4 separate regions of the Homo sapiens genome follow, and regions 1, 2 and 3 are each linked to region 4. The links come from fine-mapping of genetic effects on gene expression. A gene starts in region 4. Each other region holds a variant in brackets. All regions are shown on one strand. Distances are between the middles of the regions. Region 1 overlaps CCDC158 (coiled-coil domain containing 158). Region 2 overlaps LOC105377286 (a long non-coding RNA gene). Region 3 overlaps SCARB2 (scavenger receptor class B member 2). Region 4 holds the start of SCARB2 (scavenger receptor class B member 2).

Evidence for each region.
Region 1: its variant is fine-mapped to the expression of SCARB2 in lymphoblastoid cells (TwinsUK, PIP 0.95).
Region 2: its variant is fine-mapped to the expression of SCARB2 in unexposed skin (GTEx, PIP 0.91).
Region 3: its variant is fine-mapped to the expression of SCARB2 in subcutaneous fat (FUSION, PIP 0.95).

Annotation. Positions count from the first base shown.
Region 1 is chr4:76,388,901-76,397,007 of GRCh38, reverse strand. CCDC158 (coiled-coil domain containing 158) reads left to right here. Exons shown (of 25, transcript NM_001394954.1): 4 at 522-739. Among named protein-coding and RNA genes, the nearest start is that of CCDC158, 28 kb to the left of the region's middle. The variant T/A (reference allele first, on the strand shown) is at 3,073.
Region 2 is chr4:76,230,869-76,238,975 of GRCh38, reverse strand. LOC105377286 (a long non-coding RNA gene) reads left to right here. Exons shown (of 3, transcript XR_938897.4): 3 at 1-270. It also overlaps a transcript of SCARB2 not described here and a transcript of FAM47E not described here. Among named protein-coding and RNA genes, the nearest start is that of FAM47E, 17 kb to the left of the region's middle. RefSeq lists an enhancer at 4,204-5,080. The variant G/A (reference allele first, on the strand shown) is at 4,538.
Region 3 is chr4:76,185,892-76,193,998 of GRCh38, reverse strand. All of the region lies in intron 2 of SCARB2 (scavenger receptor class B member 2), which reads left to right. Among named protein-coding and RNA genes, the nearest start is that of SCARB2, 24 kb to the left of the region's middle. The variant G/C (reference allele first, on the strand shown) is at 4,841.
Region 4 is chr4:76,210,669-76,218,775 of GRCh38, reverse strand. It overlaps SCARB2 (scavenger receptor class B member 2), which reads left to right and starts at 4,952. Exons shown (of 12, transcript NM_005506.4): 1 at 4,952-5,349. The coding sequence starts at 5,233. It also overlaps a transcript of FAM47E not described here. RefSeq lists silencers at 4,614-5,233, 5,147-5,551.

The DNA.
Region 1 (8,107 bases), 180 kb before region 4:
CCAAGAAGGCCCCCAGCAGTCTCATCCTGCTACAGCATCAGCTTAAGGCCAAAATTGCTTTATCCTTTCACATGCGTATTTTCCCCTTGAGACCTTGAGCTTCTTCGGGGTTCAATAAGGGAATCAGTTAGCATAAAGTGTGCACAAAATTATTTTATGAAAAAGTTAATTAATGGGCCAGGCGTGGTGGCTCATGCCTGTAATCCCAGCACTTTGGGAGGCCGAGGTGGGCAGCTCACCTGAGGTCAGGAGGTCAGGAGTACGAGACCAGACCATGGTTTCACCATGGCTAACATGGTGAAACCCCGTTTCTACTAAAAATACAAAAAATTAGCCCGGCATGGTGGCACGCTCCTGTAATCCCAGCTACTCAGGAGGCTGAGGCAGGAGAATTGCTTGAACCCGGGAGGCAGAGGTTGCAGTGAGCAAGATCGCGCCATTGCACTCCAGCCTGGGCAATAACAGTGAAACTCCTTCTCAAAAAAAACGAAAAGTTAATTAATGAATTCTTTAATATTTAGGTTCTTCAAGTTCATTTTTTGTGTCATCTATTCGTGGTACAATAATTGAAAACACATCTTCAGCTGGGACTTTGACACAGGTTCCTTTTTTCCCTAAATATGAAGTGGAACTTGATTCTCCTAGAAAAATCATCCCATCTCCTGGAAAGGAACACTTTGAACGTGTTTTGGAAGAATATTCACATCAAGTCAAAGATTTACAGAGAAGACTAAATGAAGTGAGTTGCCTTCTCTTCTAGCACCTGATGCTATTTGGGGGACAACAGTGAGATCCAGTATGTAGTTGTAAAGCCAGTTATACAACTTCCTGGAAGAAAAAACTAACAAATGGGTTTATTGGTTAAATTTGTTAATTTGACCTGTGCCTTCTATTTTCGGTATTAAAATTGGGCTAATGAAAAGTCTACATATTTATTTTTCTTTTTTAAATAATTATTCAAAACATCTTGGTTTCATGATATAAATTTTAATGAAACTTGAATAACTCAAAATTATAATAAGTAGCATTTGTCTGCATTTATAGTTAATAATTGGCATAGACCTGCTGTCCTGCTATCATGATACCTGATTTCTCTTTACAAAGCAATGGTAGAGGGTAGGTTTTTAGATATGTGTGTATACATTATAGCTAAATAGCATCTAGAAGTTATTTGCTAAAAATTTCAAGTGGACATTACGTAGAATCAAACTGGCTTTACAATTGCATATTTGGTCCCAGTAGTTAACAGTCTAAAAGTCAAACTCATTACTGCCACATACAAAGCTCTTCATGCTCTAACCTCTCCCTGGTACATTTTAGCCTCATATGCTACCCATTCTCCATTGGTACCTATTCTGGTAGTATCAGGCCACTTGCTCTTCCCTAGATATACTGCGCTATTCCAGACCTGCATGCCTTTGCCCAGGCCATTTTCTCTTCTCTACCTTGTCTGCCTGGCAAACTCTTATTATGCACCAAGACTCAGCCCATGCATTTTCTTCTCTGAAGCCTTTCCTCTAGATGACATTAGGTGTGCTCTCCTCTGTACAGTTACTGCCATTTGTGCACATTTATTGCAGTATTTAGTACATCTAATTTTACTCATTACCACATTGTTCTACCTCATCAGATTGTGTGAGCACTTTTAGGAAAAAAAAATCTACAATTTTATTAAGTGTTGAAAATTATGTACCCCAGTATGCACAGGGATACAAAAATGAATAAGGTAGGACTTACAAGGAATTCATAGTCTGGGAGGGGAGCTTGTCATATAAACAGTGGCATTACCTATGATAAATACACTAATGAAGTTGTATATATAGACAAACGAAGCACAGAGGCACTAATGAGGAGAAGAAACAGTGTCTTAATTTGTTTTCTATGTTTATCCCCTAACAGAGTATATGACACTTAATTGGCCTTCAATAAATAAGTGTTAAATCAGTAAATTTCCCTTCTTGTGTAGGTTTTTGTTTTTACTGGGGTTCCTAATTGCCTTTTTCCTTACACTATTTGCCTTTACATATCCTTATTAGAAAAAAACATATCATATAGATTTTCTATATCCTCCTTTGACCCAGGACACTCCAAGTGTCTTCTGACCTTTTGCTCAGTCTAGATTAGTTTCTCTTAGGTATCTTGTATAACTCTTTTCCAAAGACTCCTGCCACTACTTTCCAGGTTGGATCCATGGTTTCCAGGAATCACTGTTTTCTATCTTCTTTCTTTTTTTTTAATTAAACAAAAAGGTATATATATTTATGGAGTACATGAGCTATTTTGGTACAGGCATGCAATGTGTAAAAAAATCACATAATGAAAAATTGGGTTTCCATCCTCTCAAGCATTTATACTTCATGTTACAAACAATCCAATTATATTCTTTTAGTTATTTGAAAATGTACAATTAAATTATTATTGACTATAGTCACCCTGTTGTGCTATCAAATACTAGGTCTTATTCGTTGTATTTTTTTTGTACCCATTAACCATCCCCACTTCTCCTTCACTCCCCCACTACCCTTCCCACCCTCTGGTAACCATCCCTCTACTCTCTATCTCCATGAGTTCAATTGTTTTGATTTTTAGATCCCACAAATAAGCAAGAACATGTGATGTCTGCCTTTCTGTGCCTGGCTTATTTCACTTAACATAATGACCTCCAGTTCCATCCATGTTGTTGCAAATGACAGTATGTCATTCTTTATTATGGCAAACAGTACTCCACTGTTTATAAGTACCACATTTTCTATATCCATTCATCTGTGGATAGACACTTAGGTTGCTTCCAAATCTTGGCTATTGTGAACAGTCTGCAACAAACATGGGAGTGCAGATACCTCTTTGGTATATTGATTTCCTTTTTGGGGAGTATATACCCAACAGTGGGATTGCTGGATCATACGGTAGCTCTATTTTTAGTTTTTTGAGAGACCTCCAAACTGTTCTTTATAGTGGCTGTACTAATTCACATTCCCACCAATAGTGTACAAGGGTTCCTTTTTCTCCATATCCTTGCCAGCATTCGTTATTGCCTAACTTTTGGATAAAAACCATTTTAACTGGGGTGAG[T/A]TGATATCTCATTGTAGTTCAGATTTGCATTTCTCTAATGATCAGTGATGTTGAGCACTTTCTCATATGCCTATATGCCATTTGTATTTCTTCTTTTGAGAAATGTCTATTCAAATCATTTGCCTATTTTTAATCAGATTACTAGATTTTTTCCTATAGAGTTGTTTGAGCTCCTTATATATTCTGGTAATTAATCCCTTGTCAAATGAGTAGTTTGCAAGTATTTCTTCCCATTCTGTGGGTTTTCTCTTCACTTTGTTGATTGTTTCCTTTGTTGTGTAGAAGCTTTCTAACTTGTGATCCCATTTGTCCATTTTTGCATTGGTTGCTTGTGCATGTAGGGTATTACTCGAGAAATTTTTGCCCAGATCAGTGCCTGAGAAGTTGACCCCAATGTTTTCTCATAGAGTTTCATAGTTTGAGGTCTTAGATATAAGTCTTTAACCCATTTTGATTTAATTTTTAAATATGGTGAGAGATAGGGATCTAGTTTCATTCCTCTGCATATGGATATCCAGTTTTCCCAGTACCATTTATTGAAAAGACTGTCTTTTCCCTAATATATGTTCTTGGCACCTTTGTTGAAAATGAATTCACTGTATGTGAGTGGATTCATTTCTGGGTTCTCTATTCTATTCTATTGTTCTATGTGTTTGTTTTTATGCCAGTACCATGCTGTTCTGGTTACTGTAGCTCTGTAGTGTAATTTGAAGTCAGGTAATGTGATTCCCCCAGTTTTATTCTTTTTGTTGAGGATAGCTTTGGCCATTCTGTGTCTTTTGTGATTCCATATGAATTTTAAGATTGTTTTTTCTATTTCTGTGAAGAATGTCATTAGTATTTTTATAGGGATTGCATTGAATCTGTAGATTGCTTTGGATTGTATGGACATTTTAACAGTATTGATTTTTCTAATCAATGAACATGGGATATCTTTCTGATTTTTAGTGTCCTCTTCCATTTCTTTCATCAGCATTTTATAGTTTTCATTGTTGAGGTCTTTCACTTCTTTGGTTAATTCCTAGTATTTCATTTTATTTGTGGAACTTGTAATGGGATTACTTTTTTGATTTCTTTTTCAGATTGCTCACTGTTGGCATATAGAAATGCTATTGATTTTTATATGTTAACTTTGTATCCTGCAACTTGACTGAATTTGCTTATTAGTTCTAACATTTTTTTTGGTGGAGTCTTTAGGTTTTTCCAAATATAAGATTATATCATCTGGAAACAAGGATATTTTGACTTCTTCCATTCCAATTTGGATGTCCTTTCTTTCTTTCTCTATGTGATTGCTCAAGCTAGGACTTCCAGTACTATGTTGAATAACAATGGTGAAAGTGGGTATCTTTGTCATGTTCCAGATCTTACAGGAAAGGCTTTCAATTTTTCTCCCTTCAGTATGATACTAGCTGTGGTTCTGTCATATATGACTTTTATTATGTTGATCTTGTAAGTGTGCTTCATTATTTTCTATTCTATACCCATTTTTTTTGAGTTTTGTCCTGAAAAGATGTTTAACTTTATCAAATGCTTTTTCAGCCTCAATTGAAATAATCATATGGTTTTTGTTTTTCATTCTGTTGATATGATGTATCACATTGATTGATTTACATATGTTTAACCATCCTTGCATCCCAGGGATAAATCCCACTTAGTCATGATATATGATCTTTTTAATGTATTGCTGAATTCAGCTTGCTAGTATTTTGTTAAGGATTTCTGCATCAGTATTCATCAGAGATACTGACCTGTAGTTTTCTTTTTTTGATGTGTCTTTGTCTGGTTTTGGTATCAGGGTAATAACTGCCATCATAGAATGAGTTTGGAAGAAGTTCTTCTTCCTCTATGTTTTTGGAACAGTTGAGTATAATTGGTGTTACTTCTTTAAATGTTTGGTATTCAGCAGTGAAGCCATCAGGTCCTGGGCTTTTCTTTACTGGGACTTGTTCAGGTTTTAGATTTCTTCAGGGTTCAATCCTGGTAAGTTGAATGTGTCTAGGAATTTGTCCTTTTCTTCTAGATGTTTCCAGTTCATTGGCATGTAATCACTCATAGTAGCCACAAATTATCCTTTGAATTTATGCAGTATCAGTTGTAATGTATCCTTTTTTTGTCTCTGATTTTATTTATTTGGGTCTTCTCTCTTTTTTTCTTAGTCTTGCTAAAGGTTTGTCAATTTTGTTTATCTTCTCAAAAAACCAACATTCTGTTTCATTGATCTTTTGTATTTTTTTCATTTTATTTCTGCTCTGATCTTTATTATTTCTTTTCTTGTACTAATTTTGGGTTCAGTTTGCTCTTGCTTTTCTAGTTCTTTAAAATACATCATTTAAATTGTTTATTTGCAGTTTTTCTTCTTTTTTGAAGTAGGCACTTAATAGCTATATATTTCCCTCTTTGTACTGCTTTCACTGTATACCATAGGTTTTGGGATGTTGTGTTTCCATTATCATATGTTTCAATACAATTTTAAATGTCCTTCTTAATTTCTTCATTGACTCACTGGTCATTTAGGAGCATATTGTTTAATTTCTGTGTATTTGTATGGTTTCCAAAATTCCCCTTGTTATTGATTTGTAGTTTTATTCCATTGTTGTCAGAGAAGATGGTTGATATTATTTCAGGTTTTCTTGAATGTTTTAAGACTTGTTTTATGACCTAATGTATAGTCTCTCCTTGAGAATCATCCATGTGCTGAGGAATGTATTCTGCCCAGAACATTCCTGTGTCTATTCCTGTGTGTATACAAGGCTGTGTATTCTTCAGCCTTTGGATGAAATGTTCTGTAAATATCTATTGGCTCCATTTGGTCTATAGTACAGATTAGGTTTTATGTTTCTTTGTTGATTTTCTGTCTGAATGATCTATCCAGTCCTGAAAGTGGGGTGTTGATGTCTCTAGCTATTGTTGTATTGAGGCTTATCTCTCTTTTATTTCTGATAATATTTGCTTTATATATCTGGGTGCTGCAGTCATGGCTCCATAGGTATTTTAAATTGTTACATCCTCTTACTGAATTGACCCATTTATCATTATATTGTGACTTCTTTGTCTCTTCTTATGGTTTTTGTCTTTAAATCTATTTTGTCTGATATAAGTATAGCTACATCTGCTCTTTTTTGGTTTCCATTGGCATGGAATATCTTTTTCCATCCCTTTATTTTCAGGCTATGTGTGTCTTTGTAGGTGTAGTGTGTTTCTTGTTGGCAACAGATCATTGAGTCTTGTTTTTTAATCCATTCAACCACTCTATGTCTTTTGATTAGACAATTTAGTCCATTTATGTTCAATGTTGTTATTGATGACTAAGGACTTACTCCTGCCATTTTTGTTATTTGTTTTCTGGTTGTTTTGTGGTCTTCACTTCCTTCTTTTTTTCCTTCCTGTATTCCTCCTAGTGAAGGTGATTTTTCTCTGGTGGTATGCTTTGATTTCTTTATTTTTAAGCCAGTCAAATTTAGCAGTTGGTTTTATACCAACTCTAGTGACACTAATGTTAATAAGTTCTGATAACCCACTACCATGCTTTGATTTCTTGCTTTTATTTTCTGCGTATCTGTTGTATGTTTTTTTACCTTTGAGGTTACCATGAGGCTTGCAATACTCTCTTATAAACCATTATCTTAAAACCATCACTTAAAAAGTGATGACAGTTTAACACTGATTGCATAAACAAACAAATGTACGAAAACCAAACTAATACAAACTCTACACTTTGACTTTGTGCCCCCACTATTTAACTTTTAGTTGTTTCTCTTTGAATCTTATTGTACTATCTATGGCTTGAAAAGTTATTATTACTTTTGATTGGTTTATCATTTAGCCTTTCTACTTAAGAGAAGTTTACACACCACAATTACAGTGTTATATTGTTCTGTGTGCTTACTATTACCAATGAGTTTTGTACCTTTGGATGATTTATTCTTGCTTATTAATATCCTTCTCTTTCAGAATGAAGAACTCCCTTTAGCATTTCTTGTAGGATGGGTCTGGTCTGGTGTTGATGAAATTCCTCATCTTTTGTTTTCTAGAAAAGTGTTTATTTTTCCTTCATGTTTGAAGGATATTTTCACCAGATATACTATTCTACAGTAGATGGTTTTTTTCTTTCAGCACTTTAAATATGTCATGCCACTCTCTCCTGGCCTGTAAGGTTTCCACTGAAAAGCCTGCTGCCAGATGTATTGGAGCTCCATTGTATGTTATTTGTTTCTTTTCTCTTGCTGCTTTCAGGATCCTTTATCCTTGGCCTTTGGGAGTTTGATTATTAATTGCCTTGAGATAGTCTTCTTTGAGTTAAATCTGCTGATGTTCTGTAACCTTCTTGTAGTTGAATGTTGGTATTTTTCTCTAGGTTTGGGAAGTTCTCTGATATTTTCCCTTTGAATAAACTTTCTACCCCTATCTTCTTCTCTAACTCCCTTTTAAGGCCAGTAACTTAGATTTGCCCTTTTGAGGCTATTTTCTAGAGCTTTAGGTGTGCTTCATTGTTTTCTTTTCTTTTTTCTTTTGTTTCCTCTGACTGTATATTTTCAAATACCCTGTCTTCTCACTAATTCTTTCTTCTGCTTGATCATTTCTGATATTAAGAGAATCTGATGCATTCTTCAATACAGCAATTGCATTTTTCAATTCTAATATTTCTGCTTGATTCTTTCTAATTATTTTAATCTCTTTGTTAAATTTATCTGATAGAATTCTGAATTCTTTCTCTGAGTTGTCTTTAATTTCCTTGAATTTCCTCAAAACAGATATTTTGAATTATCTGTCTGAAAAGTCATATATCTCTGTTTTTTCATAATTGGTCCCTGGTACCTTACTTAGTTCATTTAGTGAGGTCATGTTTTCCTGGATGGTGTTGATGCTTGTAGATGTACTTTGGTGTCTGGGCATTGAAGTTAGTTATTTGTGGTAGTCTTCACAGTTGAGCTTATTTGTGCCTGTTCTTCTCGGGAAGGCTTTCCAGGTATTCAAAACCCCAAGCCCAATAATGCTATGGTTTTTGCAGACTCATAGGGATACTGCCTTGGTG
Region 2 (8,107 bases), 20 kb before region 4:
ACCTATATGAGGTACTTAGAGTAGTCAAATGGTGGTTGCCTGGGGCTGAGCAGAGGGAAGAATGGGAGTTATTGCTTAATGAATACAGTTTTGCAAGATGGAAAGACTTCTGGAGATGGGTAGTGGTGATGGCAGCACAACAATATGATTGTACTTAATGCCACTCTACTGTACACTTAAAAATGATTAAGATAGTAAATTTTGTGTTATGTATGTTTTACCACAATTAAAAATTGTGGTAAATAAACAATAAAGTTTTTTTAAATGTTGTCTCTGTACCTAACATGACTAAGCACCCTCCTATTCTCCTTCCCATCACATCTCTCCTAGATTATCTTGGGCATCTGAACCTAAGCAGGTGCAATAGTTTCATTTGATTGCCCCCTTTAAGTCCGCTCCTTGTTGGACTCATAGTTACCTTTACCTGCTTACTTCTTGATGATCACTGGGCTGAGCTAGGAATTCTGCCTACTGCTAGTTCCTGTGCTAAAGATAAATGTAGTATGAGGAAACAAACTCACCAGCACCCTGGCAGGATCCTTCAGCCAGCCCACAGAGCAGTTGTTGCCCATTTGTCTTGGAAACTACACACTCATATTTTTAGAAAGGGACAAACAGTTTCCCTGAGCTAGATCAAAATTCAACAGGGAAGCGGAGGTAGAGAAAACCCCGTTCCTAGCTCCTGAAGACTGTGAACCAGACTTGGAAACGCCAGGCTAACCCAAAGTAACCTGGGAACATTCAGCCTGACCTGGGTCAACCGTGATACAAAGGAATATTTAGAGTCTTGGCAGGAAGAGACCTGATAATTCCATAGCCTTCCTTATGGATCATGGCTCCCCATTAGACACAGAATAAATTCAGATTCTTCAAGCTGGTATTCAAAGCCTCCCGGGTCTGGCCTGCTCACCTATCTTCCCTTATTTCCCAATCCTTCTCCTCTCTATATCATTACAGGGCTACACTGCAAACTCAACTATGGGTCTGATATAGTTTGGACAAATGTCCCCACCCAAATCTCATGTTGAATTGTAATCCCCTGTGTTGGAGGTGGGGCCTGATGGGAGGTGATTGGATCACGGGGGTGGATTTCTCAGGAATGATTTAGCCCCAGCCCCTTGGTGCAGTTCTTGTTATAGTGAGTGAGTTCTTGTGAGATCTAGTTGTTTAAAAGTGTGTATCACTTCTCTCCTTCCTCTCTCTTGCTCCTGCTCTGGCCATGTGATGTGCCTGCTCCCCCTTCACCTTCTGTCATGACTGTGAGTTTCCTGAGGCCTCCCCAGAAGCTAAGCAGATGCCAGCATCATGCTTCCTGTGCAGCCTGTGGAACCATGAGCCATTAAACCTCTTTTCTTTAGAAATTACCCAGTCTCAGTTATTTCTTTATAGCAACGTGAGAATGGACTAACACAGGGTCCAAACTCCTTGGTTTGTCCTCAGAATGACTGTACTTTATGCTCTGTGATACTAATGATACATGGAGCTGGATTGGGACAGACAGACATCAAAAGGACTAAAATTAACTCTGAGTCCTATATACCTTCACTGTTTTTCATACTATCTCAAGCCAACTTTTACCTTGTAAACCAAAAAAAAAACAAACAAACAAACAAAAAAAAAAAAACTCTAAGGCCCCTCAACCATCTGAATGGACTTTCTCAGCCAGGGCACTTTTAAAATTAAACCTGAGGCATGATGGGAAGTGGGGTTGGGCATACCTCATTATACCTTTCCAGCATTAACATCAACACAGACTTTAAATCTGATAAGAAACATTTTATGGCCAGGCGCGGTGGCTCACACCTGTAAGCCCAGCACTTTGGGAGGCCGGGGCGGGTGGATCACGAGGTCAGGAGATCGAGACCATCCTGCCTAACACGGTGAAACCTCGTCTCTACTAAAAATACAAAAAATTAGCCGGGCGTGGTGACAGGCGCCTGTAGTCCCAGCTACTCAGGAGGCTGAGGCAGGAGAATGGCATGAACCTGGGAGACGGAGCTTGCAGTGAGCCGAGATCATGCCACTGCACTCCAGCCTGGGTGACACAGTGAGACTCTATCTCAAAAAAAAAAAAAAAAGAAAGAAAAGAAACATATTTTACAACCTATTCTCTCTGAAGCCTACTACCTGAAGGCTTCCTCTGCAAATAAGAACTTTAGTCTCCACAATCCTTTGTCTTAACCCAGACATTTCCTTTCTGCTGATCCCAGGTCTTTAAATTCAACCAATTGTCAACCAGAAAATTTTTAAACCCACCTATAAGAAGCCCCTGACCCCCACCCCACCCCCCACCACCCTACCCCACCACTTTCAGTTGTCTTACCTTTCTGGACCAAACCAATGTATTTCTTAAATGTATTTGATTGAAGTCTCATGTCTCTCTAATGTGTAAATGTCTCCCTAAAATGTTCTAAGCTGCACCCCAACCACCTTGGGCACATGTTCTCAGGATCTCCTGAGGGCTGGGTTATAGGCCACGGTCACTCATATTTGGCTCAGAATAAATCTCTTCAAATATTCTACAGAGTTTGACTCTTTTCATCAACAACCCAGATGTGGGTTCTATCAGGGTGCTGCAGTTTCTATCCTGTGTTTTTCACAGATCACCTTTGATCATCTCATTATTTGAAATAAATACAATATGAAAAAGTTTCAGACTTGGTCAAAGTCCAAAGACATCTTGATTGCTACAAAAGCAAAGGAACCTAGATAATTGAGCTTATACTGGAGTGAATCATTTAACATCTGTTTGTTTTCATTATTTTCCTTTAACATTCTTGTGAGAACTATAAAGTGACTTAAACCTGAATAACCAGTTTGACAGGTTTCTGTTGGGTGGGGACAACTAAAAAAAAACACAAAAAATGTTCTTTAATCTCTCCAAGCCACTTTTGATATGTAAAAAATTCAAACCAGTTGTTATACTTTGCTCTGGTGCCACAGTTATAAAAGACAGGTAAGAGCATAACATTGGCACCAGTCTGCCAGGAACGAATCCTGGCTCTACTGTTTACTAGCTATGCAACCTTGGGAAAGTTATCTAACTTCTCTGTGCCTTGGTGTCCCATCTGCTAAAATGATGATAATAATAGCACTTACCTCATCAGATTGTGAGAGGATTAAATTGATTATCACATATAAACTGCTTAGAACATGCCTAGCATGTAGTTAAGCTCCCAGTAAATATTAGCGTTACAATGCAGAGGATTTCTGAAATGGGGAATCGATCTAGAACTAGTCAATGAATTTGTGAGTCTCCTTTGTGAAACAGCAGCATATGGTCTTAAGTTGGTAATATGAGAATGAAAAACACCTTCTCTTCTCTTAACAGGTTGATCTCTCTTGAGCCCTTAACTGGGAATCCCTATCTGTGCTTAGTTCCTAGCTTCATGATCTTGGACAAGTTAATTATTATCTGAGATTTTTCCAGGTTTTTTTTCAAATGTAAAATGGGGATAATAATTCCTACCTCCCACAGTTGTAAAGGAGGTAAAATATGGAGAGTGCCTACTGCTGTCCCTGGCATAGGAGGCTTCTCTTCCTAACTCCTTCTAATCCCCACCTTAATTTTAGTGAGGACAGGTAGCTTAGAATTATATTTTAAAATATATTTCCCAAAATGAAACTTATTTCTATTTTATTTATTTATTTATTTTTTGAGACGGAGTCTCGCTCTATCGTCCAGGCTGGAGTGCAGCGGTGCGATCTCGGCTCACTGCAAGCTCCGCCTCCCGGGGTCACGCCATTCTCCTGCCTCAGTCTCCCGAGTACCTGGGACTACAGAAGCCCGCCACCACGCCCGGCTAATTTTTTGTATTTTTTAGTAGGGACGGGTTTTCACCGTGTTAGCCATGATGGTCTCTATCTCCTGACCTCGTGATCTGCCCGCCTCGGCCTCCCAGAGTGCTGGGATTACAGGTGTGAGCCACCGCGACCGGCCAATTTATTTTTATGTTTATTTTTCAGGAGGGAGGATGGCTGCTGGTCCCCACCCTGTCCCTACTATCTTACTTTAATTTTACTATTTAAATCAGGCAAAGAAAAATTTTTTTTGAGAGACAGAGTCTTGCTCTATTGCCCAGGCTAGAATGCAGTGGCACAATCCTAGCTGGCTGCATCACTGCAGCCTCAAACTCCTGGGCTCAACTTCTCTTCCCACCTGGGTGTCTTGAGTACCTAGAACTACAGGAACACACCGCCATGGCCGGCTAACATTTTTTTTCCTTCCATAGAGATAAAGGTGTCACTATATTGCCCGATCAGGTCTTGAATTCCTGGCTTTAAGTGATCCTCTCAACTTGGCCTGCCAAAGTGCTGGTGAGACAGCCAGGTGGGAGGGGGTCCCCGGAAAAACTCCAACCAACCTGCGCCCTGGGGTGGAGTCTCGGGAAGTTCACGCTGTTTGCAGCGGGGAGGAGCCTGGCCGCCTCACTTCCTGTGTGGAACCTAGGATTCCAACCGTAAAGCAGGAAGCATTCTAGCAGGGACTCTGGCCTAGCAAGAGTCCCTGTTTCTTCCTTTTCTTCCTTTTCACCCA[G/A]TACAATTCTGTCTTACCATTCAAATTGTCTGCAAGCCTGAATTTTTGTGGCCATGGGACAAAGAATGCCATCTTTAGCTTCACAAAGGAAAAGTCCTGCAACATTTTTGACCCCCAACATGGGGCTCAAGAAGCGGTGAGTGAAATGACTCAAAACCTCTCACTGTTGCTCCTAAGCCTTTTCATCCTCAGACTTCTGAGAGTGGGGGAAATCATGCCCACACCCCCGCATTGCTCCCCAGCCTTTTCATGGCCTTTTCTTTCCTTTTTCGGGATGGACCAGTGAGCAGCGGCTCCCCTCCACCCTCCCCTCCCTGCCTGGGCTGAGACACATGGCCCAAGGTGCCGCGGGCAGCTGGCTGGTGTTTTCTGCCACACACCCTGGGCCTGAAAGGCCATCTCTGACCCGCAGCAATTAAACTTGTCTCCCTGGTGAAGGAACCACTTGAATAAGAATAAGAGGTTCTTCCCCAGGCATTTTTTAAACTTTTTTTCTTTCCTCTTCTTCACCCCATCAGTAGTAACTTTTAAAGTTCTTTTCCTTTTAGAAGATGCTTTACTAAACCAAGCCCCCCCCAACCAACTATCTCTGTTTGTATTATCTGCAAAGTTTTGGTTCTGAAATGAAGCCTTCATCTGGTTTTACATATTGGGGGCACTGCCTGTAACTGCTTGATAGGGCTTTGTTCAGCAATCCTGCCTTAGGGGATGAGCCTGCTGTGGTTGGTATCTGGATGTTTTCCTAGCCCTGTCTCTTAAAGAACCCCACCCGGGGACTGGGTTTTCTCCTGCCTGGCTGTTATATGTGTGTGTTATATGCTTGTCAGTTACATATGTGTGTGTGTGTGTGTGCGTGTGTGTGTGTGATGTCTGTAAAAAGAGCTCTAATTAATTTGGCCTAAAGAAAGACAAGTGCTCAGATCTAATATTTTTTTAAGGGAAGATAAAAGCTGTGATGCCTTTCAGTTCACGCGACTTTAATCTTTGAGAAATAAAAGCAACCTTAAAGATTATTGGTAAAAACAGATGTCATTAAAATGTAAATAGGTGGGCTGCATAATGCAGGTCAGATGCAAGGTTTGCTAAATGTTTTAAGGTTACAAACTGCTTTTTGGGTTTTGAGAAATATGACTTGCTGGCTTCACAGCTGGTAAGGCCTGGGGACACATGGAACTAACCACACCCTTAATTAAGAAGGCAAAACTTGGCTGCAGTTAGCACACAATTAGAACAACTTACCAGGTTTTAAATTAACGTTAAAAATTCTAGGAGTTACCATTACAACATGTAATTGAGACTACTGGAAATAGATTTACATGCAAGGTGTGTAAGAACGGTAAAATGTGGTTTTTTAGTAAAAGGTTATAAGGAAGCATGGAAATGTAAATTTTTGCCTAGGGTTAAAGGATTGTTTTGAGTTAGATAGGAAAAGCTGAAGGTTCAAACAACTGGTGCAAGAATTATGGAAATTAATCTTGCAGAAGAGGTTCTCTGTGACCATGTTAACTAAATTCAAAAGGGTTATTAAAGGTTTTTGCTGCTTTAAAATTTCTGAGTCATCATTTTGGCAAAATTGTTTATAGTAATCTGGAACACTATTTCATAATATCAAATGTTTTAAACATATTTAACAGCCTTCCAAAAATCAAACTTAAGTTTCATAATTGTCTTTTCTGATACCTGGCTTTTAGATAGTCCAGAGGGCCCCTGAAACATCCAGAAAAGAGAGGCAAACGAGATGATTTGACATGTCTAGGTAAATGAAATTGTCATAATGATGTTCAATCTTGTTTAGGTTATATTTTTGTGAGTAATATTAATACATGTTCCAAAACTGTATGGGACTTTCTAAAATTCTAATGTCTAAGTTATGCTACCAATCATAATTAAGGTTGTTATGTTAACTTATTGTAAACCACAGAGAAAACCAAACTCCTTTGTCAATTGTGTTTCCAAGTGTAACTACCCTGGACATTTTTGCTATTCAGAGACAATTGTTGTCTTGTTTTAATCCTTTTCAAGAGATGATTTAGAATAAGCCGTAGAACTGTAACAGGTGCTCTCAAATACAGGCTTCTGATAACTTTGGAGATTGTGACATTGGAATAAAGGAAAATGTACAGGACTCATGAAGAGCTGAAATGTTCACGAATATCAACCAAAGCAAGAATTAACTAAATGGACTGAACTCAGAAAACTAAAGCAATCTTTTTGACTTTTGCTTGGAATATTGCTCATCCTTGTTTTGTTTCTCAGAGTCAAGGAAACTTATTTTGAACTATTTATGGCCTTTAATAATTAAGCAAGGTATACTTCTGTAACCAAAATTTGAAGCATGTTTGTTTCTCTCTGCCTGGTTCCTCTAAAATTTGAAAACTATCTGTGAGTATTCATAACTTATGGCAATATAGTTGTTTACATCAGTGCAATAGGAATCCACTTCTCTCTTGCAACGGGACACAATTGGAAAAACTGGTTACTTTACCAAGTCTTTGACTGGAAGGGTATGCTTTCCTTTAAGGAGTCAATCTTGACTTGCAGCGCCAATAAAATCCCAGTGGGGAAACTGGCCTCATACCCTTGTTTACACAGTCCCTGCACAGGGTTCCTATGGTCAGTAAAGAATGCCACTTTTAACAGGTCCAGGAACTCCAAGTTTATCTTGGAACCTTAAGAGGAGAGGATCACCAAACTCACAGGTATTTGAGGATAAACCCATGCCTGGGCTCAGCTTTAAAAGGTCTTATCTGATTCCTTGTGGAACAAACTTCCATCGAAGCCAATCCGAAAGGCCTTTGCGGAAATAATAATTCTTGCTGTACTTTATGCAAATAATCAGGCCAAGTATAAAAATGTAAAGTCTATTTTGCAAACAACTCAGTCCTGTCATGATTTGTTTGTTTGTTTGTTTTTAACAAAAATGAGGACTGGCGAGTGAGAAATCGTGTTTCAAAACCTATCATATATTTGTCATTAAATTCTAAACTCACTAGTTGTTTTTAAGTTTTTACCTACATTTTAAGACTAATCCTACTTGTTCCTGTGAACCAACCGGCAGTCTCCAGCTGCAGCTCAGAAAGAACAAGAGGGATGGGTAATGTGAAAATCTGGATCAACATTCTAATTCTGAGGAATTATCCTGAAAACCCTGCCAGGTGATGGGAATGAATAGGATGCCCATCACTTGGACATTTCCTTTGGGAAAATAAGACCAAGGGAGCTAACAAAAGCCAAGCATCATGCACCCAAATCTTAGCAAGCATAACTATAGCTATCAGTCATCTGGGTGTGTCACAAGACATCCTTTCCTCTCCCTTATTGGAGGAGGACTCAGTTCTACGGTTTCACCTTAGCATGCAGCTTATGATAGGGAGTCCATGCAACTCCCCTGAGACACATTTTTGTTCCAAACTCAATTCCAAGCTTTGGGTCAAAGCCCTAGGAAAGAAAACTGGATCTAAGGGATCCAGAGGTAGACAACAACAGAGGTTAAAAGGCACAGCACAGGTGATCGTGGCTGATTCCTGCCAATTAAGCCATGCCCAAGCTTCCTGTTTGATGGATAAAGGC
Region 3 (8,107 bases), 25 kb after region 4:
CCCCTATGACCCAAACAGCTCCCACCTGGCCCTACCTCCAACACTGAAGATTACAGTTCAACATGAGATTTGGAGGGGACATCCAAACTATATCATTCCACCCCTGGCCTCCAAATTTCATGTCCTTCTCACATGTTAAAATATAATCATCCCTTCTCAATAGTCCCCCAAAGTCTTAACTCATTCCAGCATTAACTCAAAAGTCCTAAGTCCCAGGTCTCATCTAGAAATGAATTCCTTCTACCTATAAGCCTGTAAAATCAAACAAGTTATTTCCTTTCAAGATACAATGGGTGTATCAGCATTGGGCAAACATTCCCATTTGAGAAGGGAGAAATTGGCCATAAGAAAGGGGCTACAGGCCCCAAGCAAGTCTGAAACCCAACAGGGCAGTTATTAAATCATAAAGCTCCAAAATCATCTTCTTTGACTCCGTGTCTCACATCCAGAGCACACTGGTGCAAGGGGTGGGCTCCCAAGGCCTTAGGCAGCTCCGCCTCAGTAGCTTTTTTATGCTGAGATTGCAAGCTGATGGTGGCTCTACCATTCTGGTGTCTCAAGGACGGTGGCCTTCTTCCCACAGCTCCACTAGGCAGTGCCTCAGTGGGGACTCTTTGTGGAGCCTTCAGCTCCGCATTTCCCCTCCTCACTGCCCTAGTAGAGTTTCTCTTGAGGGCTCTGCCCTTGGAGCAGGCTTCTGCTGGGGCACTTAGGCTTTCTCATACATCATCTGAAATCTAGGTGGAGGATGCCAAGCTTCCTTCACTCTTGCACTCTGTGTTCCTGCAGGCTTAACATCACATGGAAGCTGCCAAAGCTTATGGCTTGCACCCTCCAGAGGAGTGGCCTGAACTGTACCTGAGCCCCTTTGAGCCATGTCTGGAGCTGGAGTGGCTGGGATGTGGGAAACAGCACAGGGAAGTAGTGCCCCTGGCCTGGTCCCTGAAACCACTCAGTCCTCTTAGGTCTCAGGGCCTGTGATGGAAGGGGCTGTCTCAGAGATCTCTGAAATGTTTTCAAGGCCTTTTACCCATTGTCTTGACTCTCAGCACTTGGCTTCTTTTTAGTTATGCAAATCGTTTTAGCAATGGTTGCTCTACAGCCTGCTTGAATTTATCTCCCCACAAAAATATTTTGTTTTGTTTTGTTTTTGAGACAGGGTCTCTGTTGCCAGGCTAGAGTGCGGTGGCATGATCATGGCTCACTGCAGCCTTGACCTCCTGGGCTCAAGGGTTCCCCCTGCCTCAGCCTCCCAAGTATCTAGGACTACAGGCAAGTGCCACCATGCCTGGCTAATTTTTAACTTTTTTTTTTTTTGAGACAGAGTCTCCCTATGTTGCCCAGACTGCGGAAATGCTTTTCTTTCTCTGCCACATGGCCAGGTTGCAAATTTTCCAAACCTCTATGTTCTGCTTCCCTTTTAAAAATAAGGTCCAACTTTAAGTCATTTTTTTACTCCCACATCTGAGTGTAGGCTGTTAGAAGCAGCCAGGCGACATCTTGAATGCTTTGCTGCCTAGAAATCTCTGCCAGATATCCTAAATCATCACTCTCAAGTTCAAACTTCCACAGATCCCTGGGGTGTGAACACAATGCAGCCAAGATCTTTGCTAAGGCATAACACATGTGAACTTTGCTCCAGTCCCAATAAGTTCCTCATTTCCATCTGAGACCTTTTCAGCCTGAACTTCACTGTCCATGTCACTGTCAGCAATTTGGTCACGATCATTTAATCAGTCTTTAAGACATTGCAAACTTTCCCTCATCTTCTTGTCTTCTTCTGAGCCCTCCAAACTCTTCCCTTCTCTGCCCATTACCCAGTTTCAAAGCTGCTTCCACATTTTCCAGCTATCTTTATAGCAATATTTGACTCTCAGTACCAATTTTCTAAATTAGGTTGTTCTTACATTGCTATAAAGAAATAACCTTCCTGGGCATGGTGGCTCATACCTGTAATCCTAGCACTTTGGGAGGCCAAGGTGGGTGGATCACTTGAGGTCAGGAGTTTGGGACCAGTCTGGCTAACACAGCAAAACCCCACCTCTACTAAACATACAAAGATTAGCCTGGCATGGTGGTGCCCACCTGTATTCCCAGCTAGTCAGGAGGCTAAGGCAGGAGAATTGCTTGAACCTGGGAGGCAGAGGTTGCAGTGAGCCGAGAACATGCCACTATACTCCAGCCTGGGTGACAGAGCAAGGCCCTGTCTCAAAAAAAAAGAAGAAAGAAAGAAAGACAGGGAGGGAGGGAGGGAGGGAGGGGAGAGAGAGAGAAAGAGAGAGAAGAAAGAAAAGAAAGAGGGAGAGACCTGAGACTGGGTAATTTACTTAAAAAAGAGGTTTAATTGGCCTATAGTTCCACAGGTTCTACAGGAAGCATGATGCTGGCATCTGCTTGGCTTCTGGGGAGGCCTCAGGAAACTTATAATCATGGTGGAAGTAAGAGAGGGGGAGCAGGCATGTCACATGGCCAGAGCAGGAGCAAGAGAGGGGAGAGGTGCCACACTTTACAACAGCCAGATCTCGTGAGAACTCACTATCTCGAGGACAGCACTAAGCCATGAGGAATCCTTCCCATGACCCAAACACCTACCAGGCCCCACCTACAACATTGGGGATCATATTTCAACATGAGATTTTGAGGGGACACCAAAACTATATTATTGGTCTTCGTAGATTAATTGTTTTAGTCTGTACAAGTCAATATGTAGAATTATAAAGATGAACCCTGTTGCTATATGAAGAAATCTAAGAAAATACTTGGGTCCTCATTTTAAAAAGCCATTTTGTATGTGTTCTATGCCTGATGAAACACTGTGTACTGGGTAGAGAAAGTTTGTATTTTAAGCTCTCCCACTGGCAATAATTAGAAGTTGAACCAGGATCAGTATCTAAGTGTCCCATTGTTTGTTGTTGTTGTTATTTTTAAATGAAATTCCTTAAGATGTGATGGAGACTCTGCAAACTATCCAAAATAGTGTCATTCCAACATGTTAGCAATATTTAGAATTATTAATGAGATACTTTACAATCTTTTTTTATACTGTCTTTGAAATCCTGTGTGCATTTTACACTTATAGAACATTTCATTTCAGACTAGCCACATTTTGAATGTGCAATAGCCACATGTGTCTAGTGGCTACCCTATTAGACAGCATAATTCCAACCATACTCCCATGATTTTTTGTTTGTTTGTTTGTTTGTTTGTTTGTTTTTGAGACAGAGTCTCATTCTGTCTCCCAGGCTGGAGTGCAGTGGCGCGATCTTGGCTCACTGCAACCTTTGTCTCCCAGGTTCAAGTGATTCTTCTGCCTCAGCCTCCCCCGTAGCTGGGATTACAGGCACGGCCACCACGCCTGGCTAATTTTTTGTATTTTTAGTAGAGACAAGGTTTCACCATGTTGACCAGGCTGGTCTCGAACTCCTGGTCTCAAGTGATCCACCCGCCTTGGCCTCCCAAAGTGCTGGGACTACAGGCGTGAGCCACCATGCTTGGCCACTCCCATGATTTATAAGCTCCCCAGACACACTGCCTTGCCAGTATTCATGCTGTTGCTTCAGTCAAGAATGAATTCCTCAGCGCTACCTCTCTTGACCTTCACATCTTACTTAGTGCAAATGCTGTCTCCTCCTGAGACTTGCCTGACTTCGGATACTCTCCCTGTTACATCTTATTTAAAATGTCAAGTAGACTGGGCACGGTGGCTCACACCTATAATCCCAGCATTTTGGGGGGTTGAGGTGGGCAGATCACTTGAGCTTAGGAGTTCGAGACTAGGCTGGGCAACATAGCAAAACTCCGTCTTTAACAAAAATACAAAAAATTAGCCAGGCGTGGTGGCATGTGCCTGTGGCCCCAGCTACGTGGGAGGCTGAGGTGGGAGCATCGCTTGAACCTGGGAGGTGGAGGTTGCAGTGAGCTGAGATTGCACCACTGCACTCCAGCCTGGGTAACAGGGTAAGACCCCCATCTCAAAAAAAAAAAAAAAAGTGTCAAGTATACCACTTTATAGCACTTGTAAAGTGGTATGTTGATGTGGTTTGGTTGTGTCCCCACCAGCCAAATCTCAGCTTGAATTGTAGTTTCCATAATCCCCACATGTCATGGGAGGGACCCAGGGGGGTAATTTAATCACGGGGGCAGCTACCCTCATGCTGTTCTCTTGATACTGAGTTAGTTCTCACGAGATCTGATGGTTTTATAAGGGACTTTTTAAAAAACCCTTTTGGTTGGGTGTGGTGGCTGATGCCTATATTCCCAGTGCTTTGGGAAGTCAAGGTAGGCAGATCACTTGAGGTCAGGAGTTTAAGACCAATGTGGCCAACATAATGAAACCCTGTCTCTACTAAAAATACAAAAAGAAAAAAAAATTAGCTGGGTGTGGTGGCACACACCGGCTAAGGCAGGAGAATCACTTGAACCCCGGAGGCAGAGGTTGCAGTGAGCTGAGATCACGCCACCGAATGCCAGCCTGGGCGACCGAGCAAGACTTTGTCTCAAACAACAACAACAACAACAACAACAGACAAACAAAAACCCTTTTGCTGGGCACTTCTCCTTGCTGCTGCCACGTGAAAAAGGACGTGTTTGTGTCCCCTTCTGCCATGACTGTAAGTTTCCTGAGGCCTCCCCAGCCATGCTGAGCTGTGAGTCAATTAAACCTCTTTCCTTTATAAATGACTCAGTCTCAGGTATGTCCTTATTAGCAGCATGAGAACAGACTAATAAATATGTGCATCCATTATGACAGTGACTAATTGCATTTTAATAATTGGCTTAGGTATCTGTCTTTCTTCCCAATGTACTGGAAGCTCCATGGGGTGCAGTGACCAAGTCCTTT[G/C]GTCTCTGACTGTCTACTATTTAATGAATATTTGTGGAATATGTAAATTAAACATCTTCAACTGTGGTTTAAATTCATAGGACACATGGAAAAACTAACACTATAGGACACAATTATTAAAAAGTATTTAAAAGTAATGACAAAAAACGCAGTTACTTTGCACCCACCTAATAGCCGGAACCATAGGACTTAGTTCAGGAAACCCAAATATAGGTTCAAGAAAGGGGAATCAGGCCCTGAAAATGAATGGCTTTGTTAGGAATATGCATATGTGCAGTGCAGGCTGCTAAGAGCTCCTTACAGGGCTGAGTGGGTCGTGAGATCTGGGATTTGTAGAAAAACATGGCTTTTTAGGGAGCTGTCCAAACCTTCTATGGGGCCTGTTAGTCTCTACATGTGCCTTTTGCGGTCATTCACTGGATTTGATTTCTGTCACTTGTGGCTTTATGATGCTATTGTTTAGGCTGGATAAGACAGAACATTCCAGAAGCTTCTGCTCCAGTGTTTTCTCCCAACTGAGTCAGCTGACTCCATCAATTGTATGCCAGGGGGCCTGGGGCAAAGGAAGGGGAGGGCATGTAGCCCCTTTCGCCAGTTAGTACAGATTGGTGTGGTGGTGGGAAACCTCTGAGATGGGGAAGGGCCAAGCAAGACTGTGGAGGGCCTAACTCATCTGACACAGGATTTACAGTGGCACATTTCCCAAACCTTTCACATACTGGGGAGTTCAGAATAGTAATGTTTTTGGAAAAAGATGATGGGCATTCCAAATGTTGATAACAGCCAGTCAGTCTGGTTTAAGGAATGAAGTGTATTATTTACATTTTTGTAAAGCTGCAGATTGAGCAGCCCTGGAATGGGTCTGTGAATACAAGGCTCATTGGCCTCATGATCCTTTTGCTCAGGGACATATTTGTATAAAATTTGTATCAAAGTTGTGGTATCCCATGGCTTCTGCAGCCTTTTTGAGGTTTATTTTTTATCTTGTCAGATACCTTTTTCTATTTTGCCTACCATTTAACATTTCAAGAATTAAAAAAGAAAACAATTTGTCTAAGGGCACTTCCAATTAATTTGCGTATTTCTAAGAAGTATTTACTAAATTTACAGTATCCCGTGAAATATCTTATTTTGGGGTTTCTTAGTTTTGCTGTTTGGATTATTCATTTCTATTTTAGGCTTGTATTATTTAAAAAGATGTAAGGGCTAGATCTTAAGTTATTTTATTATTCATTGATAACAAGTAATACTGGATTTTCAAATATAATCAACATATATAATATATACAGCATTATCTTTAAGAGTGTAGACTATATTTTATATTATAAAAATTACACATATATATGTGTTCCATATATATAATCACTAAAGATCAACTTGAAAATGCAGTAAAGTTTTGAACAAAAACTACTAATCCATGGCTTCACTGTCTCAAAAATAACCAATGCTAACTAACATTTTAGTGGATATCTTCTTGGCCATTTTTCCATGGATGAGTTTTAGATGGTTATCATACTATGTACATATGCATGTACATATACAAAATATACATATTTTTTATTCACCTAATGTTATAGCATAGGATTTTTCAATGTTATATTTTGGTCTTCATACAAATGAATTTTAATGATGATTATATTTAATAGAGTAAATGTATTACTACACTTAACTGTTCCTTTCCTGAACATGTAGATCCGTTTTCATTTTCTCCTCTGGTTACCTCGTGGGTTGAATGTTCTCCTCATGTTTGCCAGCCAGTTGTGTTTCCACACTTTTAGTTCTTGTCCTTTGTCCATTTGCTTATCTGGGTTCTGGAGTGTTCATGGCACTCTGTGAACCTTTTATGTTTCATTTGGGGCAACTGCTTTTCCATTGTTTACCTTGTCAATTTTTAAAATGTGTTGTAGTCAAGTCTATTCTTTTTCAACATTTCTATCAGGTCTGAGCTTTAAAAGTCTTACTCCCTTCAATGGTTTGATGTTCAAGTCGATTTTCTTATAGTTCTGTTTTTCCACATTTAATTTCTTCAGGATCTAAGTGTCTTCCTTGCAATTTAGCAAAGGCAGGAATTTTGTTTATACTGTCTAATTCTGTCCTATTAACCCTTTAGTTCTTTAACCGTGTCTGAGCCAAGCTGTATAAGAAATTTTTTTAACATAAAGAGACAACAAAAAATTTAGGAACACCGTGATCATTGTTTCCATTATTATAGGAGAATGCTTTCTCCTTTTTTCTAAACTTGCCTCGCTTTTCTCTGATAGTGTTTTTAGATTGGTAGCTAAAACTGTATTTGTTTTGCCAAAATAGAAACAGATTTTGAAAAAAAAAATCCTTAAACTGCTCAGAAGTAAAAAAAAATAGAAAAAGATCTCTCACACCATCTTATCATGCACAAAAGGTTGTGACCAGGTATGTGTGAGTTTTAAATGCACGTGGTACATTAGGTGAATTGCCTACGTGAGCCTATGGGTCACTGCCTGGGGACAGGGAGACCAGGGAGATATTTCCATCTTAAGGAGTGAAACTGTTTCTTGCACACTGTCAACAAGCGGGTGAGTCTTCTCCCGACCCTGCTCTTACCACTTCTTCTCAGTATCCTGCTTTGTATCTACAGGTTGCTGCCTTCAGTTACCTGAGCGGGCAGCGTACTCAAAGTTAAGGGTAGAGGCTCCTCAGCCTGTGCCTTTGGCTGGCTCCCCTTGCTTTCCCTCTTCTCTGTGGTCACCCTAGGACTTCAGTACTCCTTTCACGTTGATGTGTTCATCACCCCAGCCTCGCCTGGATCTGTGATGGTCTTTTAAAGCGTGTCCTCCTCCTCCAGGACCACAGCTTTCTCACTCCCCACATGGGAATGCTTTCATGCTTGCTGCCCACCTTCGCCCCACCGCTGCCTCTGTTGGAACACCCCCTTCACCCTCCCACCTGCAGAAGCCCACTCTTTCCAGAATCAAGCAAAAGTGTCTTTTGCAGGAGTCCCCTTCCAGTTGCCATCCCTCCCTCCTCTGTATGCCCACAGTGCGTTTACTGTGAAGGAGGTGGCCTCTGAAGGCAGTCTCCCATGCTCTACTGTGGATTCTTGGAGGACCAGAACCAGGACTTAATGTCACACCATCTCAAGAGCTTAGCACAAGCCGTTGCACATGGTATCAGTAGCTAATCCCTCCTAAGCAGCAGGTGTGCCAGGTAGTGTTGTAACTGGATTTATGTGGATTTCATTCTCACAACAACCCTACAAGGTGAGTACGTTATTACCTCCATTTTACAGAT
Region 4 (8,107 bases):
TTCTATTAGTTAGACAACACTACGCTTGTGTTTTCAGGAAAGGGAAGAGAAAAAGGTGAATAGGATATCTCCTCCTAGTTCCGTGTTTCAATAAGTCTGCATTATTAGGGGAACAAAAAGGAAAATAAGAATTTGAAGAGGGGAATTCTCATTTTCCCATAACCCCAAACAAAATAAAAACCAAACCAAACCAAAACAAACTGGAAAAGATTCCCCTAGTTGGGGGTGCAAAGATGATAATGAGGAAGCCATGAGGTCTTCTTGATCGGAGGAGGCGGTAGACAGGGACATGGGTAACTTCACAGAGAGTCCCTGTGGCCTGGCACAGGTGCATGTGATATAATATAAATGGTATATGAGCTCTCCTCTGGGATATGTAAGCCTATCTGCATAAAGCAGTTCTGTAATGTAAGAACTTTGGAATGATGGGTAGGGGAGGAGGGAGGAGAGAGTAATTTTTTCTTATGGAGGCTGTATTGCTCAGGATTTAGGATGCCCCACAAACATTTAGGAATAACATATGTCAAATCACTAGGGTGTGATGGTACATTTTATAGATCACCTTCAATAAGAAGAAAGCCAAGACTTTTAGAAGTATCTTGGAGCCTGACCTGTCCCAAAGTAGGCAAGGCCTAGGGCCATTTCCATTCAAACTCCTGGGATCAAGTGATTCTCCTGCCTTGGCTTCCCAAAATGCTGGGATTACAGGCATGAGCCACCTGGCCCGGCCTGTGGTGTATTTTAAATGTTTATATTTAACACATTAACACTTTGAACATAAAAGTATACAATGACTACATCATTAAACTCATTTGAGTATAGTATCAACATTCTAAATTTAAGGTAGAGCCCAAAGAGCCCTCTTGCTTCCCCTCGATAGCCCTTAGAGTCTGTGAAGAAAGCTCTTTTTCTAAGTCCCGAATGATTGCATAATTTCAACAGGCACCAGCAATCATTCATTAAGTGTACTTGTTCTTCTCAGATAAAGTCTTCTGATTTTAGGTATAGAGAGATCACCGTATCTCCTTGCCACAGCATCAGTCTCCTCATTTTCCGCCCTTGTCTGTTTGTGTTGCTATAACAATACCTGAGATTGGGTAGTGAAAAGAGGTTTATTTGGCTCATGGTTCTGCAGGCTGGACAAGACGCACGGCACAGACATCTGCATTGGATGAGGGCCTCAGGCTGCTTCCACTCCTGGGAAGGCAGAAAGGGAGCACACCTGTGTGAGGCACATGGGCAGAGAGGAAGCTAGAGAGAGAAGGAGGAGGTGCCAGCTCTTTTCAACAACCCGCTCTCTGACAACTCACTCATGCCTGAGGGAGGCATTAATCTATTCATGAACAATCTCTCCTCAGGACCCAAACACCTCCCATTAGGCCCCACCTCCAACACTGGGGATCAAATTTCAACATGAGATTTGGAGGGAACACAAATCCAAACCATAGCAGAGAAGTCACCAGGAAGAGTCCTGATTGTCTCCCTGCCCTGGCATCAGCCTCCTCATCTAAACTCTGGGAGCAGTAACCCCTTCCCAAGCTGTCTGCCCCTCCAGAGTGTGTTCAGGGTTATTAGTGGCTGGCAAGCAGGGGCTACTCCCTGGATGAGAGGGCAAAGTCTCTCATAGGGTGAGATGATCCTGTGGCAATAAACTAACAATGCCAATTAGCGGTGCAGACATGTCCTATAGATCAGAAATGAGGAGGAAGTCCCAAAGGGCATTGAGAAACTTAAATCTGGATTTTGGGGCTTTGTGTCAAAAGCTTCTGAACATAGCTGTGGGTAGAGAAGATGGAACTGAACAGAAAGACAGCCAGGCCAGCTGCTAAAAAGTTATGCCAGCCTCGGTGATAAGACAGAGATTACTGTGGGATCACAGACTGCTATTTTGGGAACATACATTATTTTCTTAAAAGCTGTTTATATTTTCTGTAATTAGGTCCTTTTTGTTCTGTCTTATGTTAACACATTTAAAAATGCTAGCCTGGTCAGCTGTGTTAAGAAGAACCAAGAAAGAGATTTTCATTCGGCTTGTCCAGAGTTTTAAAGGGGAAGTGGCTTACTAACCGCCTGACATAGTGGAAACAGAGTGAGATCCTCAGAGAGCAGGTAAACTGAGGGCAACTTGAGCTGTAAACCCTTGTTTAGAAACTCTCCCACACTAAGATACATTTATCAAATTTGTCTCCATCTCTCCATCCCCACAGTCTGTTACTGTCCTGGTGGCCCAGACAAGAGAGAAGAAGGGACCTCAATGAACAATGAAAAGGAAGAGTACCCTGGGATTGGTGGTCCAGGGATGGGAGGAGTGGGTACCTATGGAGTTTGCCCTCCAGAATGGAGCCCGCAAACAGAAAATCTGATTGTAGCAGTCAGAGAGTAGGGGGTGGAAGTTCAGTGTGAGCATGAACTTCTGAGTGCCAAAGTACCTAGGCAGGCAAGTTACCAAATTTTTTTTTCTAGTTAGGGAAGGAGAGGACATATAGATGACAGGAGGACTTCAACCAATGCCTAGGTAGGGGACATGTGAGGGTTAGTGGGCTAGCATTGCTCCTTAAGCAAACTGGGGCACAGAGCAGAGTTAATGTAGCTAACTGAAACTTAACAGCAGAGAAGAGGCAGGATTAGGGGAAGAGAAAGGCTGCCGATTGTGGACACCTGAGGACTGGAGACCACCCACCCATCAGGCTGGGGACAGTTGAATCATTCAGGACCCCACCAGGTTCTATTTGAACACAGGACTGGTCCTCTGGGGCTGCTGCTTGAAGAGCTTTGGTAGCTACAAAATGTCCCAGCCTCAGTTCTGCCCTTACCATCTGCTCCAGTTATCTACTGAGTAACCTACCACACCAACACTCAGTGGCTTAAACAACAACAATCCTTTATTTTGCATTTTGAGCAGGGCTCAGCAGGGACCACTCACCTCTGCTCTGTAATGTCTAGGGCCTGTGACTCAAAAGGCTAGGGACAGCTGGGGACTGGTGGGACATTTCTCTTCCTACAGACTCAGGGCTTCTCCCCACAGTCTTTCCCATGTTCTCTGCAGCAGTCTCCGGGTAGCTGAACTTAGGGGTGACTTGAGGCTCCAAGAGCAAGAATTTGCAAAGGCCCCAGCAGAAGTTGCAAGGCATTTATGATCTAGCTTCAGAAGTTCCAGGATATGGTCATTTCCACTGTATTCTATTGGTTTAACAAATTGCTAAAACCTGCCCAAATTCAAAGCGAGAAAGTATAGACCCCACCTCTCAACGAAAGGAGTAACAAATAATTTGCCACCATTTTTAAACCATCATGCTATCTCACCAAGTCCTCAACAAAGCCTCCTAACTGATTTGCTGTCCTCAGATTCTCATTAGTGACAGATCGGGATGCAGCAATGCGCAGAGTAGAAAAAGTGAGGGTTTTGGAAGCCAACAGCCAGCCCTACATCCTGGTTCAAGCAGGATCCACCACTCAGCAACCAGTTGAGCTTGTTAGGTTACTTAACTCAGAGCCCCAGTGTTCTTGAGTGTAAAATGAGGATAATACACTATAGTTGCCAAGAAAATGTACTTCTTGGATCTTGCAGTGTAGATAGCATAACTGACCAATGGCTCCGCCTCAACTGCTGAGCTCTGCTGAAATCCATACCCTGATATTTATCCCTAGGTTGCTGCAAAGGCCAGCTTCCTAAGGCTGCTCCCAGCTCATGACTGAGCACAGCAGGGATACTAAGGCGGGCCTCTTTCTGGGAGATGCCAGACTTCTGGGACAAGCCCATTTGGCTAAAGGATTCCCCACCCCAATGGCCTTGCTGAACTTTTTATACATGGACTGTATATATATCAAATGCTTCCTTCCACCCAACCTTCCTTCCTTGCTTGCCTCTTTCCTTCACAAGGATCACACCTGCATCCCAGGTCCAGCTCCCTGTTTTCCCTCAAAACTCTCTTGCATAGTACCCCCATCTGGGACTGTTTCTGGAGGACTGGGACAAACACAACCTCCTATTCATAGGACTGCCAAGGGTATTAAATGAGTAGAACTGTGCAAAGAAACTAGTAAAGGGCTGGCGTAGAAGAAACACTCATTTAACGAACACTTCTTGAGTCCTGGCTGTGTGCAGGTCTTGGTCCTGGGTGTCTGGGACACCACAGTGAGCAAAGCAGGCAAGAACACCAGCGATGCCTGCTTTAAGCTCCTTCCCAACTTCCACATCTTTAACAGGATACCAAGAGCCCTTCAAAGTCTGACCTCTTGGGGCCTCAACACCTCCGACTCCACCCCCTGAACACCTGAGCCTACAGTCAAAAGGAACTTCCTTCTTGCTTCCTACAGGTTTTGCTCTTTCACCCCCAATGCCTTTGCTCACCGTTTCCTTCTCCGTGAAATGCCTCCTCCTCCCTTTTTTGCACATCTTCCATTCTTGCACATGCCCCTTACGTGACAAACTTATGCATCCCCCAGGCCCCAGTTCAATGTGGGGCCCTAGGTCATCCAGGCAGAACATGCTTGCTGGCATGATCTCAGCAGGCACCTGGTAGAAGCACTTGCTACATTGTGTTGTAATTGCGGTAACGGTGTCCCCGCTAACTTGCGAGCGCCTCTAGAGCAGGGGAATGTCCCAGCCACCTTGAATCCCCAGCGCGTGGCCCATGGGAGGCCCTCAGACCTATCTGCGGAATGAGTAAATGAGTGTGTGAACCAGGTTCGGCAATTTCGGTGGGGCGAGCGCTGGGCCTGCGGTGCAGGGCGCTGGGAGCGGCCAGGCCGGGCCTGGCTCAGGCGCCGCAGCCACTCAGGGCCACCGGGGACCGGCCGGGGAGGGCGCGGGCCGAATCACTGCCGCCGCCGCAGGGCACATGACTGCGGCCTCCGCCCCCGCCCGCCTCCCCGCGCAGTCGCCGGCGGTTGCCTCGCGGGGTTGCGGCGAGCCCGGCCCGCGAACGTCACGTCCCTGCGCGCTCCCTGCACTCTCCCGAGCTGCGCTAGGCGGGCGCCACGGCTGCCCGGCGAAGGAAACCGAAACCGAGTCCGGGCCCGTCCCTCCGCGGCCCCATCCGCCCGGTGCACCCGGGGCCGCGCTCGCCAGGCCGCGGAGCCCAGAGCTGCGCGCACGAACCGTGCGCCGGGAGGGCGTGGGCGTGGCGCCGAAGGGTCCCGGGTCTTCGACGCCTCTGCGGCGGCTCCTCCCTCCTTGCAGTTGGATCCCTGGCGGGTGCGGCCCGGCCCGGCCCGTGAGCGGCGCACAGAATGGGCCGATGCTGCTTCTACACGGCGGGGACGTTGTCCCTGCTCCTGCTGGTGACCAGCGTCACGCTGCTGGTGGCCCGGGTCTTCCAGAAGGCTGTAGACCAGAGTATCGAGAAGGTGAGGCGGGGCGGGCTGTGTGTGTGTTGTGGAGTCGTCCAGCTCACCCTCCCATCCCTGCTGCTACATCTTGTATGGGAAAGACCAGCACTCAGGCAGACCCTCCGCGCTAGAGCTCTTCTTGCGTCCCTGTCTTCCAGGGCTTGGTAGGCGAGGGTTAAAGAAGGATGAGGAAGGATGGAGCCGACTCTGTTCCCTTTACAGTGATAAGTAAGGCTATGGATCCTGACTTTTAAAAAGGCCTTCGGTTGTGTTCTGTCGTTTGCATCTCTCCCCACTCCTTCCGTCTACACCCCAATCTCAGGTGGGCCCAAACTTGTTTCCTTCCCACTTCATGAAGAAACAGAACTGAATGAAAGACACCGCAGAAGAGGCAGGTTATGTTGTCTGCTTGCTGTAGCCTTTGAAGTGGTGTGCGCCTGGGGATGAGACGTGGGTGTGCGGTCTATTGTGTTCTTGCCCTCTTGGGCTGGGCAGGGGCAGTTGGTAGCTGGGCCAGTCCTTTAGGCTGGGTGACAATTCATCCATCAGTCTTTGCTGAACGCTGACTTAGTGGCTTTGTATCTTGTACCAACAGTCTGTGTTGCTTTGTCTCACCATGAATTCTTGTTTTTCTCAAACGGCCATAATTTTCAGGCACAGATGCATTTAGATACCCTACAAGAATCTGAACTTGTCTCTTCCTCTAGATGATTGGGCTGGAGAGCCAGTCCTTTAAGAAGACTTCATCTTTTGATTTCACTGGTCATTTCATCTGCCCTTTCCCCCACATCCACCAAGCTGTGTCAAAAGAGGAACAAAAGAGAATTACTGGGATCATTTTTTCCTTAAAAAAGAAAAATAATCACTGGAGCAGCAGCCTTTCTTGTTAGCATCCATAACTGCACGCTTCATTTCTCCCACTGGTCTGCACTTGCTGCGGCCAGATAAAAAAGCCCAGGCCTAGTCTACTTTGAATCACTGCACTCTCCAGTCAGTAAAGCTATTTTATTCCAGGTGGCAATGGATATCTTCCTTTAACTGAGTTTCCAAAAGTAATTAAGTGAGTACCTGAAATCTGGCAGTTAAAGGCAGTTTTTCAAAAAGCACCATGGCAAAGCATAATGTAATTTTTAAAGTTCACATTGCCAAGGGAAGACAAGGCCCACTGTCTGAGCGTCTCGAGGGTCAGTTTCCTTTGAGCAATCATGTTCAAGGAAAAAAGAAACTGAATCCTTTCTCCACTCCTGTCCATGTCCAAATCCATGGTGAGCTGTGTTTGAGGATGTAAACTCTTGCTTTGGGTGACTAGAGTAAAGCAATCCAATTATAGTAAATATGTGAGTTTTCTTATATGGCCTTGAAAGGCTGTTTCAAGGAGCCCTATAGGATGAGTGATCTTCCCCGTGGTTCCCATATAGCCAGCCCTTAGATTCTCTGTGTGTCTCCATTTCTCTGGGTGAGGGGGTGGCTGTAAGGCAACTTGGCTGGGGCCTGAGTTTGTGTTGATATTTCCAAGTGTTTTTCTCCATGAGGAATGGACTCTGTTCTGATAAGTAATAGTACAGGGAAGTGGACTTTCAGAGCTGCTCAATCCCAGCTAAGGAGGACTGCACGGTGTATTGTATGAAACTAAAGGACAGGGCTAGTTTCAGTGGGCAGGTGTGGAAATACTGTTGTCATTAGAGGTAAGTCACACATCGCTATTCTGCTTTTTCCTGGATTACCTGTAGGGTGGTAGGTAGCATGGGACAGTGGGAAAGATTGAGGATGTTACACTCCTGGGCATGAAACCTAGCTTCCACTATGTCCCAGCTCGGTGACCGTGGGCTGTTTAATCTTACTTGATTCATGTTTTCCCCATCTGTAAATAGGGATAATAAGGACTAACGATCACATCTGCTTTGTCAAATAATTCTTATAACCTTAAGGTGTGATCTTTCTGGGATATAGTTAGTGCTTAATAGGTGATAGCAACTTTATTTTTATTAGAAGCCACACAAAGAAAATACGTGAGATTTGGAGTCAGATTCCATATGTTCAAATCCTATCCTTGCCAGTATAAGCTTTATGACTTACGTCAAATAACTTACTTGGTCCTCAATTTCATTGCTTGTAAAACTGGGGATATGAGCTGTTAGCTAACTTGGGCACAGTGATGCATTTACCATGAAACTCGCAAAGTTAAGCTTTGGGTCTCTCACTTGCACAGACCCTTGCGAAGCCCTGTACCTCATTCTATATCCCAAATTTTCTTTTTTCTTAAGAAGGACCCTTCAAATTGTATAAGCTTCAGGACCCACAAAACCTGGATTTGTCTCTGCATGTGTATTATTGTAGGACCAAGTATAAAGCACTTAGCATAGTATCAGGCACAGAATAGGTAATCAATATGTGGCAGTCATCTTTATTGCCACTAGTATTACTATGGGAGAATTCATTCATAACTTGATTCTAATGTAGTTATAATATAATCTACTCTGATATTTCCAGTTCTTTGTTTTTTCATTTGAAGATTGTCTATGCCCCGACTTGTCTATGTCAAAAAGGGAAGAGGGAAAAGGGATGAAATTCAAATGAGTAGGTGTGGGAAGCTTAGTAAGAGAATTCCTATCCAAAAAGTTGTCTCAAATGATAATTGTCCTTGAACCCTGCAGTGACCAGAGGTAACTGAAGAGAGACTTTTAATTTTGGCCAGTGAATATCGTGGAAGGAACCAAGACAATTTTGTTTCATTTTTGGCCTCAGTGGTGACTGCCTCGTATTGGGCAAGGCCTGT